Linked DNA regions of Homo sapiens. The protein of the gene in region 1 interacts with the protein of each later gene in a pairwise test. Each region holds a gene or a part of one and is shown in the gene's direction. Other genes may lie near its edges.

What was found.
Region 2: the proteins of KATNAL1 (region 1) and COX17 interact in binary tests that used the Homo sapiens proteins (3 or more experiments, as listed by UniProt).

What each region holds. Positions count from the first base shown.
Region 1 is NC_000013.11:30,202,109-30,206,559, reverse strand, and holds the end of KATNAL1 (katanin p60 ATPase-containing subunit A-like 1), read left to right. Parts: 3' UTR 1-3,930; downstream 3,931-4,451. UniProt on the Homo sapiens protein: Regulates microtubule dynamics in Sertoli cells, a process that is essential for spermiogenesis and male fertility. Severs microtubules in an ATP-dependent manner, promoting rapid reorganization of cellular microtubule arrays.
Region 2 is NC_000003.12:119,674,402-119,682,213, reverse strand, and holds the start of COX17 (cytochrome c oxidase copper chaperone), read left to right. Parts: upstream 1-4,807; 5' UTR 4,808-4,903; coding exon 4,904-5,010; intron 5,011-5,210; exon of another isoform or gene 5,211-5,247; coding exon of another isoform or gene 5,248-5,352; intron 5,353-6,980; coding exon 6,981-7,065; 3' UTR 7,066-7,069; intron 7,070-7,425; exon of another isoform or gene 7,426-7,806; intron 7,807-7,812.

The sequences.
Region 1 (4,451 bases):
TTTAATTATTTTTCTGAATTCTTCATGGATAATGACATAGTAATTGTGATTCTTTTAATACCAGTTAAGCAGTATTTGGCAACTTAAACTTCCTGGGAGCCTAACTTTACTATGTTAAGTGAGTCAGGTGTGCTTTTTATTTCCCTTGTTTCTCATTTTGCCCTGTCAGTGGATGGTAGATGCTTTGTATATCTTAAATCCCTTAAAGGATCTTAAAGACATCCCTCAGGTGTTCTATTTAACTTTTATTTTATTTTATTTTATTTATTTATTTATTTTGAGACTGAGTCTTGCTCTGTCGCCCAGGCTGGAGTGCAGTGGCATGATCTCGGCTCACTGCAACTTCTGCCTCCCAGGTTCAAGCCATTCTCCTGCCTCGGCCTCCTGAGTAGCTGGGATTACAGTTGCCGCCACACCCGGCTTATTTTTTTGTATTTTTAGTAGAGGCAGAGTTTCACCATGTTGGCCAGGCTAGTCTCGAACTCCTGACCTCAGATGATCCGCCCACATTGGCCTCCCAAAGTGCTGGGATTACAGGTGTGATCCACCGCACCTGGCCCTAACTTTTAATATACAACACACACACACACACACACACACACACACACACACACACACACACACACACACACACTATTTCAGAAGACAGTGTGTTGCCTTACCCAGAATGAGTGCTAGGATTACAGGCGTGAGACAGACACACATACACACACATACACACACACAGAGTCTTTATTGCAGAAGACAGTGTGTTGCCTTATAGGCGTGAGACACACACACACACACACACACACACACACACACACACAGTCTTTATTGCAGAAGACAGTGTGTTGCCTTACCAGAATGAGTGCTTGGATTACAGGCGTGAGCCACTGTGCCCAGCCCTAACTTTTAATGTACATCACACACACACTCACACTCACATACACACACACACACACACTCTGACTGTCTTTATTGCAGAAGACAGTGTGTTGCCTTACCCAGAATGAGATTGAATTGTTTTGCTTCGTTTTGTTTTGTTATTCAGTGTTGCGGTAGCAGATGCATTATCAAAGGAAAAATATTTGGCTCCTTTAATTCCTCTGAAAACATGAGTATTTTGAGTTCTGCAGCACAATGACTGTAGGACTAAGCTAAGTCTGCTTTGCAGATATCTGATCAGATAGTCCCTTCATTCTGTAGACGTGTATTGGTTGGTCCAAGACACAGTGAGTAGGAGCTCTGTGGACCAAGACAAAGCTGGACTAGAGAGTACAGTTCAAACTTGGCAGTTTCTCTAACGACTCTGTATAGCTTCTGGCTTCTACTACTGAAACAAGAGTTTAGATCACTGATGGAGAGGCATAGTAATCTGTTTGTGCTTTGGAAAAATATATAAAAGTTTTTTTCCCCTATTTTTTGCACTTTAAATCTGTTTTGAAATTAGAACTGATATACATTTATTTGAATAATGTGTAACTATTATGGATCTATTTTAATGAACAATTTTTACCATTTCCCAAGCTGCCTGTTTATTATAAGCATGACATGTTTACTATAAACCTTTTGCCCCCATAATTTCTTTTTTTAAAGGAAATTAATATTAGTAAAATAAACACCTCTTTAATGGAAGCTGCAACCTTCTAGTGATCCAAGTAGACAATAGATGGTGGCATCACAGACTTTATCTACACACTTTCGGGTCTGACCACTACCTCCCACAATACCTAGCCATTTTGGAAGGGGAAAACATGCGGTGGTCTAGCTGTATAGCTCAGGGCTTAATTTCAGCTTCTGAGATTGTGATGTCATATTTCACTCTCAAAACATAGGCTGAAAGCACGAATTACTCAAAAAGTAAGCAAACCAATACCTGGTGAATCTATGGACAGTCATACACATACATCAGGGGAAAATGTGTGTGTACAACCCAAATTTACAGTATGATTGTCATTCTTTGACTTTGTTTTGTATAGCCTGACTCTGTTGAACATGAAATTATTAGTACTCTAGGTTTTGGACAGCTTGAGTTCATTTGAATTCCTTCCTTAGGAATAAGTTTTTATATACACTGCTAAATGTGTGATGAGAATCATAAAACACTAACCAGCTGAGGTAGCTGTGATTCACTTTCCCCCCACCCTAACTTGAGATAAAATGAAGGACTAGGCAAGTATTTCATGTTGTGTGAGTGGACTTCGGTTCCTTCAGTATTGTCTAGGTTATTGAGTCTTTCTTTGCCTAATAGTGGATTCCCACTCTTAAGATAACTTTTATTAGTGATAAATCAGTTTAGGGTATATTCTGTATGACAGGCATAAAATGTTAAGGGTGAATGCTGGCCTTTTCCAAGAAAAGGCCACCTTAACTTGTATGAGGAAAAAATCCTAACTATTCTCTTTTTTGTATCTTTTTTTCCGTAACTGTTTTGATTGTATATTTTAAAGAAACCACTTAATTTGTGATGCACGTAATATTTGTGTGAACCTGAGAATATGTCACAATAGGAAAAAGCAGAAATTATACTTAGGGGACATGTTAGGGGGGTAAAAATATTTAAGCCTCGAATGTTTTACTGTCATCTCCACTAACTATTTTTACAGAAAAAGCTAAAAACTCTGTTGTAATTATTGTAAGTTTACTTATTTATACTTTTAAATTAGGCTTTTCATACTTAAATTTTTTTGACATTTGCTTTTAATATTTGTTTCTTAATGTGGAAATTGTGTATTTTAATAATCAAATTATTAGGATAATAGATATATTTTTAAACATTCACCTCATTAACAAATAGATCTTTGAATTTTTATTAGGTTTTTTGGCTCCAGACAACTGTTTAGCTTTAATGATATTTCTAAATTCCCAGTGACTTATTAATAAAAACAGGAAAAATATTTAGGTAATGTCATAAAATTTATTTTACCTTTCTCATTTTCTGAGAAAATAAATGAAAAAAACCCTAGATATTGCTTTATTACCAACAGTGTGTAGGTTTTTGTACATATGGAAATTTGACACAAAAAAATAGGGAATTTGTATAGAGAAGTTTCCCTCTTATAAAAGGACTCCCATTTGATTGTTCGAAACTATAAAATGCACTTTTACTTTACCATATCTGAAATGACAAAATATCGCCCTTTGGAAAACCTGACTCTTTGCACGTGTAATTCCCAGAGTCTACCTCAGTTAACCAGGCTTAGTTTTAGGCAGGAATGAATTGAATTAAATTCAGTTCATCATCTATGCAGATTTGTTTCTTTTAAGCACATCCTTCCCTCCTGCTGTTGCCCTCCTCCCATTAACTTTTCTTTTTAATCTTGAAATTGTTTAAAATATTCCATCTTTCTTTCTCTAGCAAAGTGTTTGTATTCCAAATAAGGCCTCTGTGAAATGTCTGAATTACTTTTCCCGTCTTTGTTATGGTCAGCTTCATTATTTGGATGTATTGCATTCAAAGCAGCAGTTCCAAACATAACACACATCTATTTTCTTAGAGTTTTGTAAATACAAACTAACCTGATGACATTAAAAATTGTGGATCCTACATGTTCCTATGTTCATTCTCTAAAAACCTGAGTAACTTTATGAAAACACACAAACCTGGAAAAACATCACATTTTTGTCACATTTTTACTGACAAATGTATATTCATATGATGGTACGGCAGCAGGGAGTGGCCCCCAGTTAACATGGCTGTGAGTGGACACAGTGTCTCGCAGGATCACTGCATGTTATGATGGCTTGTAAGTGCGTTGTTAAGACTTTTGTTTCAGTGTTTGTCTCCCAGTATTTGAACCTAATTTAAAGAAAAAGACGTTTCCAAGTTGTATTTATTAAATGTGTTTTTCCTTACCTTTTGTGCTGCTACTTTGCTAATCTCATTAGCTTAGCTGTGTTTGTGCATAGGTTATATTTGGTAATAAATTTATAGAGTGTTGGTTGTCATCGCTTTCTTTGTGGTTCATTTTGACCTATAGTCACGGGTGCACTTCTTGCCACCAGTGGGAGCAACAAACCCCTCACTAGTAAGGGATGGCTTTCCCCAGATTTTTGTTCTCATAAAATCACATATTATAAACCTGACATTTTGTATTTGCTGTGCTTATGCCAATAATTTCAAGGTTGATGCAGGTAAGATGTGTGTTTTTTCAGTTAATTCCAACTGGCATAATCAATACACTTGTCTTATTTGTGTAGCACCATTGCAAAGTAGATGTTCCATATGGTGCATTTTCTAGATGACTAAGTCTTACTTTATGACCTCCTCCAAACAATTTTTTTAGTTAATAGACTTTATTTTTTTTAGAGCAGTTTTATGTTTACAGAAAAATTGAGCAGAAAATTTGGAGCTCCCATTTACTTACAACCCCCGCCCCAGTTTCTCCTCTTACTAACATCTTACATTAGTGTGGTATATTTGTTATAATTGATCAACTGATGTTGATGCATTATTATTCAGTAATTGA
Region 2 (7,812 bases), on another chromosome or scaffold:
CACCCTGTGGGACTTGGAACTCAGGGAACTGGCATAAAAATGCTGATATTCTGCTGCTGCTATTGCTATAAGTAATAAATTGTCCTTCATCTGTGACCTAGCTGCTTGGAGGCTTCTACCAATAATATGGTTTGGCTGTGTCCCCACTGAAAATCTCATCTTGAATTGTAATCCCTATGTGTCAAGGGTGGAACCAGGTGGAGGTAACTGGATCATGGGGGCAGTTTCTCCCATGCTGTTCTTGTGATAGTGAGTGAGTCTCACATGATCTGATGGTTTTATAAGTGGCATTTCCCCTGTTGGCACTCACTCCGTCCTACCATCTTGTAAAGAAGGTCCCTGCTTCTCATTTGCCTTCCACCATGATTGTAAGTCTCCTGGAGCCTCCCTAGCAATGCAGAACTGTGAGTCAATTAAACCTCTTTCCTTTATATTACCCAGTCTTGGGTATTTCTTTATAGCAGCATGAGAACAGACTAATACAACCAACATTCATAAAACTGTGGCAGGCAATTTGAATAAAATTGCAGCTATAAAGAACGATGTACAGTACATATTTACCTGTGGAAATTGGAAAGCATTTTTTCCTTTGCAGGGGCAGATATAAGGACAAAAATTACCTTACTTACTTTTGTAAGTTAGTTTATACAAAGTAGACATAGTACATTAGGCCAATGAGAATTTAAGTCTTGTAATTCTTATCTCTCAACATATGGTGTCACTCCTTCTCCACCAACAACTACTCACCCTTACTTGGTAAAGCTGGCACACCTGGGATTAGTTAGGCCTGAAAAATGGCTAAAAATACCTTTATCATAGAAGGATTTTAGAAAGTACTTTCTCAGTTGTTGCTTCTGGCATTACCAGGGCTGTCATGCATCCACAAAATTGCTGTTTGGTGCCACTGGTAGCTAATGTCCCCATTCAATAACATACAATAAACATATTCACTGTGCTATGAAAAAATCCACTACAGTCACCACTTCAAGTCTTAATGCCTGCTAATTTAGCAATTATAGTAATAGCAAAGCATTCCAAAGGTTTAAAAGAGCTCCAATTCTGGTTAAAATCAAAATTGATGAGCAAGAGCTTGATATAAAAGGTATGAATCAAACTAATTTCAGAGTTGCCTTTGTAAGACAGATGGGTGAATTTTATCTTTTATTATTTGGTATTCATCAGCCACCTACTGTCAATTTAAACTCTAATTACAGCTCTCTAAAATTATTTTTCTTGGGGGAAGTGGGCTATTAAGATTTTTGTTGGGGTAGAATGGGAAAGGATAAATTTCTTATGTTATATACTCCTACCTTTCCTTTAATACCGAAACAGGCCATCCCACGAGTATAAAAGCATTTAGACTGGGTAGGAGAAGAAAAAATGATAGAGAAAGAAGAAAAGCATAGTGATAACATAAAAATCAAAAGTTGACCTTACAGCTTACTTTATATAAATTATTATTATTATTATTTTGAGACAAAGTCTCACTCTGTTGCCTAGGCTGGAGTGCAGTGACGTGATCTCGGCTCACTGCAACCTCCGCCTCCCTGGTTCAAGGGATTCTCCTGCCTCAGCCTCCTGAGTAGTTGGGATTACCGGCGCCTGCCACCACGACTGGCTAATTTTTGTATTTTTAGTAGAAACGGGGTTTCACCATGTTGGTCAGGCTGGTCTCAAACTCCTGACCTCAAGTGATCTGCCCACCTCAGCCTCCCAAAGTGCTTGGGATTACAGGCGTGAGCCAGCACGCTCCACCTTACTTCATATAAATTAAAAGGTAGAAGGAAAAGTAACCCACATATGTGGGTTAGCTGTACCATTCTGAAGCAAGAGGATAGTTTAGTAGCTAGATATAAATGACTAAATATTTCACTTTGGAAAGGCCACTGGTTGTTTTTTTCAAAGTCAGGAGAATATTTCATCCTGAAGAAGCAGTTGTTGAAAGAGTGTTAAGGGTTACAGCACTCAGTAAGGAAACCAAAGGTTGTAAATGTCTGGAACACAGCAGGTTAAAGAAGTGTGGTGCAGAAAGGGCTGCTACTCAACTTCTTTGCCTGAGGCCTGCCTATATTAGCTAACCTGAGGAAGTCACAGGCAGTGTTATCACAACCAGTAATCTTTCTTCCCTGAAGCAAGGAGGGACAGTGGGCCAAAAAATCTTCTCAATTGCAGAAAAGCTGTTTGAGTCTTTGGGTCTGTTATCTGTCCCTACTGTTTATCTCAATTCTCTTAGCTCTCTAAACTCTGTTAGATATTTATCTTCCTTTTCTTCCTTGTTCATTTCCTATACATAAAAATGCAATAGCACAAGTGAATACAGATCAATGATTAGTTTTAAAATAAAAAAATTTTGCTTTGCATTAATTAATTAATTTTTTTTGAGACAGTCTCACTACATCACCCAAGTTGGAGTGCAGTGGCACAATCTCGGCTCACTGAAATTGCCACCCACTGGGTTCAGGTGATTCTCATGCCTCATCCCCCCAAGTAGCTGGAATTACAGGTTACCACTCCTGGCTAATTTTTGTATTTTTAGTAGAAATGGGTTTTCACCATGTTGGTTGGGCTGGTCTCAAACTTCTGACCTCAGATGATCTGCCTGCCTTAGCCTCCCAAAGTGTGGGATTACAGGTGTGAGCCACTACACCAGGCCTTGCCTTGCATTTAGATAAATTAAGTAGGATAGTAGACAGAGTACAGGGAGAAGATGATGAGACTCAGGATTGCCACTTTCAAGTTACGCAGCCTTGAACAAATGTACACCTCTGAACTTCAATTTTTCCCCAACTATAAATGTAGATAATAATTTTGACTGCCATGAAGATTAAATGATGGTTCACAACCTCGACAGCCCTACATATATGGAAGATATTGCGACTGAAGGTGACATTGTTTCAACTGAATACATATTCTAAGTGAACACATTAGTTTTTTAACTTTTAAAATTTTTAAAAATATGTAGATTTCAAATATTTTCTCCCAATTCTATCATTTATTTGTTAACTTTGTCTATAGTATTGTATGTAAAACCCCAAGCCTTTATTTTGCTGTAATGAATTTCTTCAATTTTTTTGACATGCAATTTGTACTTTTGAAATGTAACATAAGTTATTCCCCCATCCCTCAGTATTAAAATATTCTCCTCCACAATTTGCTATTAATTTCATATTTCAATCTTTCCAATCTAGGTCTTTAATGCATCTAGAGCTCTTCCTTTTAATGTAGTGTTTAATTTTCTCCAGATGGTTAGCCTATTTTCTTTTCCCCAATAATTTGTTGAACCACATTTTATTGTATATTAAGGTTACAAGTGATGTTGATATTGCTCATCCAGGAAGCACTGTTTGATTAGCAAGATTCTAAACAATGTGAGTTAGCACCTAGTTGAAAGAATTGATAATAATGGATGAGGGTGAATTTAGAACATGAGGGTAATATGTTGTATTATTAAAAATATCAATCCAGAAGGAAATAAAAATCATCCTTATTGAAAGTTTTCAGATGACAAAATGGGGATGGTCTTAGTAACCTGAAAAATACACATATAGAAATTACTCTTATACAGCACCAGTTCACAGACACGCCTGTAAATTCCCTGAGTTAAATATCTATAATATAGAAACAAACTTTGATTAGGTGATGCTGAAAGTTTAAGTACCTAAAAATACCTATCACCCTGCAGCTATTGAACAGTGCCTCCAAGTCCTGCTTTAAAAAATGATTTTATTGGCCAGGCGCGGTGGCTCATGCCTATAACCTAGCACTTTTGGAGGCTGATGTGGGCGGATCACCTGAGGTCAGAGTTCGAGACCAGCCTGGCCAGCATGGCGAAACCCCGTCTCTACTAAAAAATGCAAAAATTACTCGGGCGTGGTGGTGCACACCTGTAATCCCAGCTACTCAGGAGGCTGAGGCAGGAGAATTGCTTGAACCCAGGAGGTGGAGGTTGCAGTCAGCCAAGATCGTGCCACTTCACTCCAGCCTGGGCGACAGAGCAAGACCCTATCTCCAAAAAATAAAATAAAATAAAATAAAAAAGAGTTTATTGCCTGTTTCCAACAATACTCTGCAGGAAAAAAATCCAATGATTATATCCATTTCATTGCGAATAAGACGGGCACCAGTTTATCTATGTACCTGAGGAAATGCTATGGAAATGGTATTTTTCAATTTTATTCATCAGTATATTAACGAATATATGACTGAATAATTCATACTGAATTCAGATCAGTTGGAGGGGGGCTATAAATGCAAATTAGCTGAGGATTTAATGTGCGTAGGAGGTGTATAGGGGGTTATAGGACCTTTTAAATTCCCCCAATAGTTGTGGACTCGGTGGTTCTATGTCTTGCTATTCATTTTTAAATAGGTCAATGAAAGAGAGGAAAGGCCTGCAGTGTGTGGGGATCAGGAAGAAGGCGGATAAAAGAAAAGGGGGAAACTAGTCTGTTATTCAAGGGAACTGGCTTTCACTTATGGTTTCTCCTGTTTGGCTTGAACAAATCATTTCACCATCTTGGGCTTCCGTTTCGATATTGGGTGGGGAGGAGCGGGTGTTACGAGATCTCTCAGTTGTCTTGCTGCTTTCTTTCTTCGTGAGCCCTCCCCAAGTTGATTTAACAAATACTCTATGACCTAGAGTCCTAGAGTGTAAATACCACAGTCCAGGTGAGCGTTCAGCGGGCCTCCTTGCGCATGCGCTGAAGGGGGCACCCTCTCGTTAAGGCCCGAATTTTGCCTCTTCTGCGCACGCGCTCCTTTTAAATTCCCCACCTGTCAGAGAGAAGCAGGACTTCCTGTACTTTTTAGAGCGACTGCCGGAAGTGACTGCGGACGAATCGGCGTTTGCCGAGGCTGGCATAGATTTGGCTGTCTCCGCTCATAGCTGCTTTTGGCGCGAAAGATGCCGGGTCTGGTTGACTCAAACCCTGCCCCGCCTGAGTCTCAGGAGAAGAAGCCGCTGAAGCCCTGCTGCGCTTGCCCGGAGACCAAGAAGGCGCGCGATGCGTGGTCAGTGCGCAGCCGGAGAGGGCGCGGCCGACGAGCCCCGGGCCGCGGCCTGTGCCTTCCGGTGCCTCTGCCCTACGGCCTCTGCCCTCTGCCTTCTGCCCTCTGCCCTCTGCCTTCTGCCCTCTGCCCTCTTCCTTCCCCCCTTCCCCCACTCCTCCTCCCTGTCTGCCCCCCCCCCCCGCCCCGCCCCGCCCCGCCCCATTGCGGCGCTCTGGAGATAATTATTGGGCCTTGTAGGTTTCGTGGTCGGGTCTCTGTTGACTTATCCCGTAGCTTAGTACCGGGAAACGATGGAGAGAGAGGAGAACGGCAAGCTTCAACCACTCATTCCTTCCTACAAATGTGTGTTGAGTATCTGTTATGGGTTAAGCACTGCGTTAGGTCCGAAGATGTAGACATGGATAAAGATGCATCTTGATATAAAGGAGCTTAAAGTTAATGGAGACATAAACCAGTGACTTGTATACGACGTGGTAAGGGCTATGATAGATTTGTTAAGACCAAACAGGAAAGGTTTTCTGGTAATTTCTAAGGCTTTCTCCCAAAATTTAGAGACAGTAGGACACAGAGTGTATTCCTTACAGTTCTGAAGAGTTACGCTTCAACCCTTTTAAGACAACCAAAAGTTGAAAATCAATCAGTCTACGACGCAGGGGACAAAGTATTAAGAATAGTTCATCTAGATTGTCAATCCACAAAAGATTTGTTCTCATTTTATATAGCCTCTCTTGTGGAGCAAATCTCATTAGAGGACGTCCTCAGATAACGTGAATGTGCATCTCTTCCTCTGGCCCCTTTTGTCTTCCCAGATAGTAGATATAAGAAAGAAATCATTAGTGGTATAATGGGATAATAAGAGTGTAGGAGCTCAGTGCTTTTATTAATCCTCAGTACTTTGTAAATAATACGGGTAGGATTGAAAGACTAGTCTGAACAAATTGTTCCAGTGGTAACAGTAAGTGCTGTTGAACCTTGAATGGTATGACAGCATGATTAAGAGTCTGGGATCCACAGTCAAGGTTTGAATCTTAATCCACTAACTTGGTGACCTTGAGCCTCATGTGTCTGTAAAATGACTCTAATAAAAGAAACTCCCTCCAGTATTATTGTAAAGGTTAATGATACAAGCCATGTCAAGTGGCTAACACAGTATACATGGCAATAAATGATCAATGAATGCTAGCTATTATCTTCACAATGATCTCACTATCCCAGGCAATCTCCCATTTGCAGGCAGCTCTTGAGCTATTGAAGGATGGGTAGAGTTTCCATGGAAGGAGAACCTATTCCCTTTGTTAAATTCCCTTTGCCTCGATTGCCTCAGACCACGTGGGTTCTCCCCAAATATCCATAGTCAGGAGTCAGTTTTTCCTTGTAATTGAATTGGGCTTAACTTGATTATTTGCAAAATCACATTTTCAGGCCTTAGAAATAAAGCTGTGTAGTCCTAGTCTTTACTTTGTGAATTTTACAAGTAAAATATTCTTTGATCATCATGAGGGGGTGTTTATCTCGGTCTCCTGGCTACCAGATGTTTTTGATGTAATTAGAAGTAGATTTATTTGGTTGTGTTTGAATGTAGGGCAAAATCAGAAAGTTAATTTCTCTGTGATAATAAGCAAAAAATTGAGCTGTTCTCTGTGCCCTTCATTTAGCATAAATATTTTACTCAGTTTATTTCTTTATAGAGCAGTGTTACTCCTTGGATATTGACTAGAGGCAATATTTAATATGCGTGATTATTTCTTATCAGATTTCCCCCCCAAAATCACTTATCTGTGGAATGTCTTCATAGGCATGGGCATATCATAAGATCAAATAAAAACAAAGCTGTTTGAGGTAATAGCGTTTGTTTTAATTCCAGCTACATTCCATTATACCCGTGTTTTGTCTCACTCCCCATCACTATCATGCATACTTAATAATGTGCTTAATGCATATTTAGATAACAAGTACATTTTGTTTTATAGTATCATCGAGAAAGGAGAAGAACACTGTGGACATCTAATTGAGGCCCACAAGGAATGCATGAGAGCCCTAGGATTTAAAATATGAAATGGTAAGCTTCTTGCTTCAAAGTTGTGTATTGCTTTACAGATTTAGCAACAATTGGGCTACATTCTCTCTGAAAGGTAGTTCACCTGGTTAATCTAAAATGCTTAAGTATCAATTTGAAAAAACCATGATTTTTCAGTTCCCAATGAAGGGAGTAAATTATGTCAGTAAAGACAGTCATTTAGCGGATTGGGGAAGGGGAGAATTGAGCTTTTAAGAAAGGGTTTGACAAAAGCCTTTAGGTCCCATGGCTTTAGGAAAATTGACTGAGGGAACTAAAAGAAACATATTCTCTTTCTTGTTTCTAATAAATATTGTGGGACTTCAGTAAATGCTTTTTTTTTTTTTTTTTTGAGACAGGGTCTCACTCTGTTACCCAGGCTGGGGTGAAGTGGCCCAATCACAGCTCATTGCAGCCTCAACCTGGGAGGTTCAGGTGATCCTCCCCTCAGCCTCCTAAGTAACTGGGACTACAGGTGTGGGCCACCGTGCCTGGCTAATTTTTTGTGTTGTTTTTTAGAGATGGGGTTTCACCATCTTGCCCAGGCTGGTCTCAACCTCTTGGACTCAGGCAATCCTCCTGCCTTGGTCTCCCAAAGTGCTGGGATTAAGAGGTGTGAGCCACTATGCCTGGCCAAGAAATGCTTTTAAGTAGGGAGTGGGTATCCCACGGAAGTATTGCTTTCTGAAAAATGAAAATGGAATTGTAGCATGCTTTATTCGAATAAAACTAAAGCCTCAGGCCAT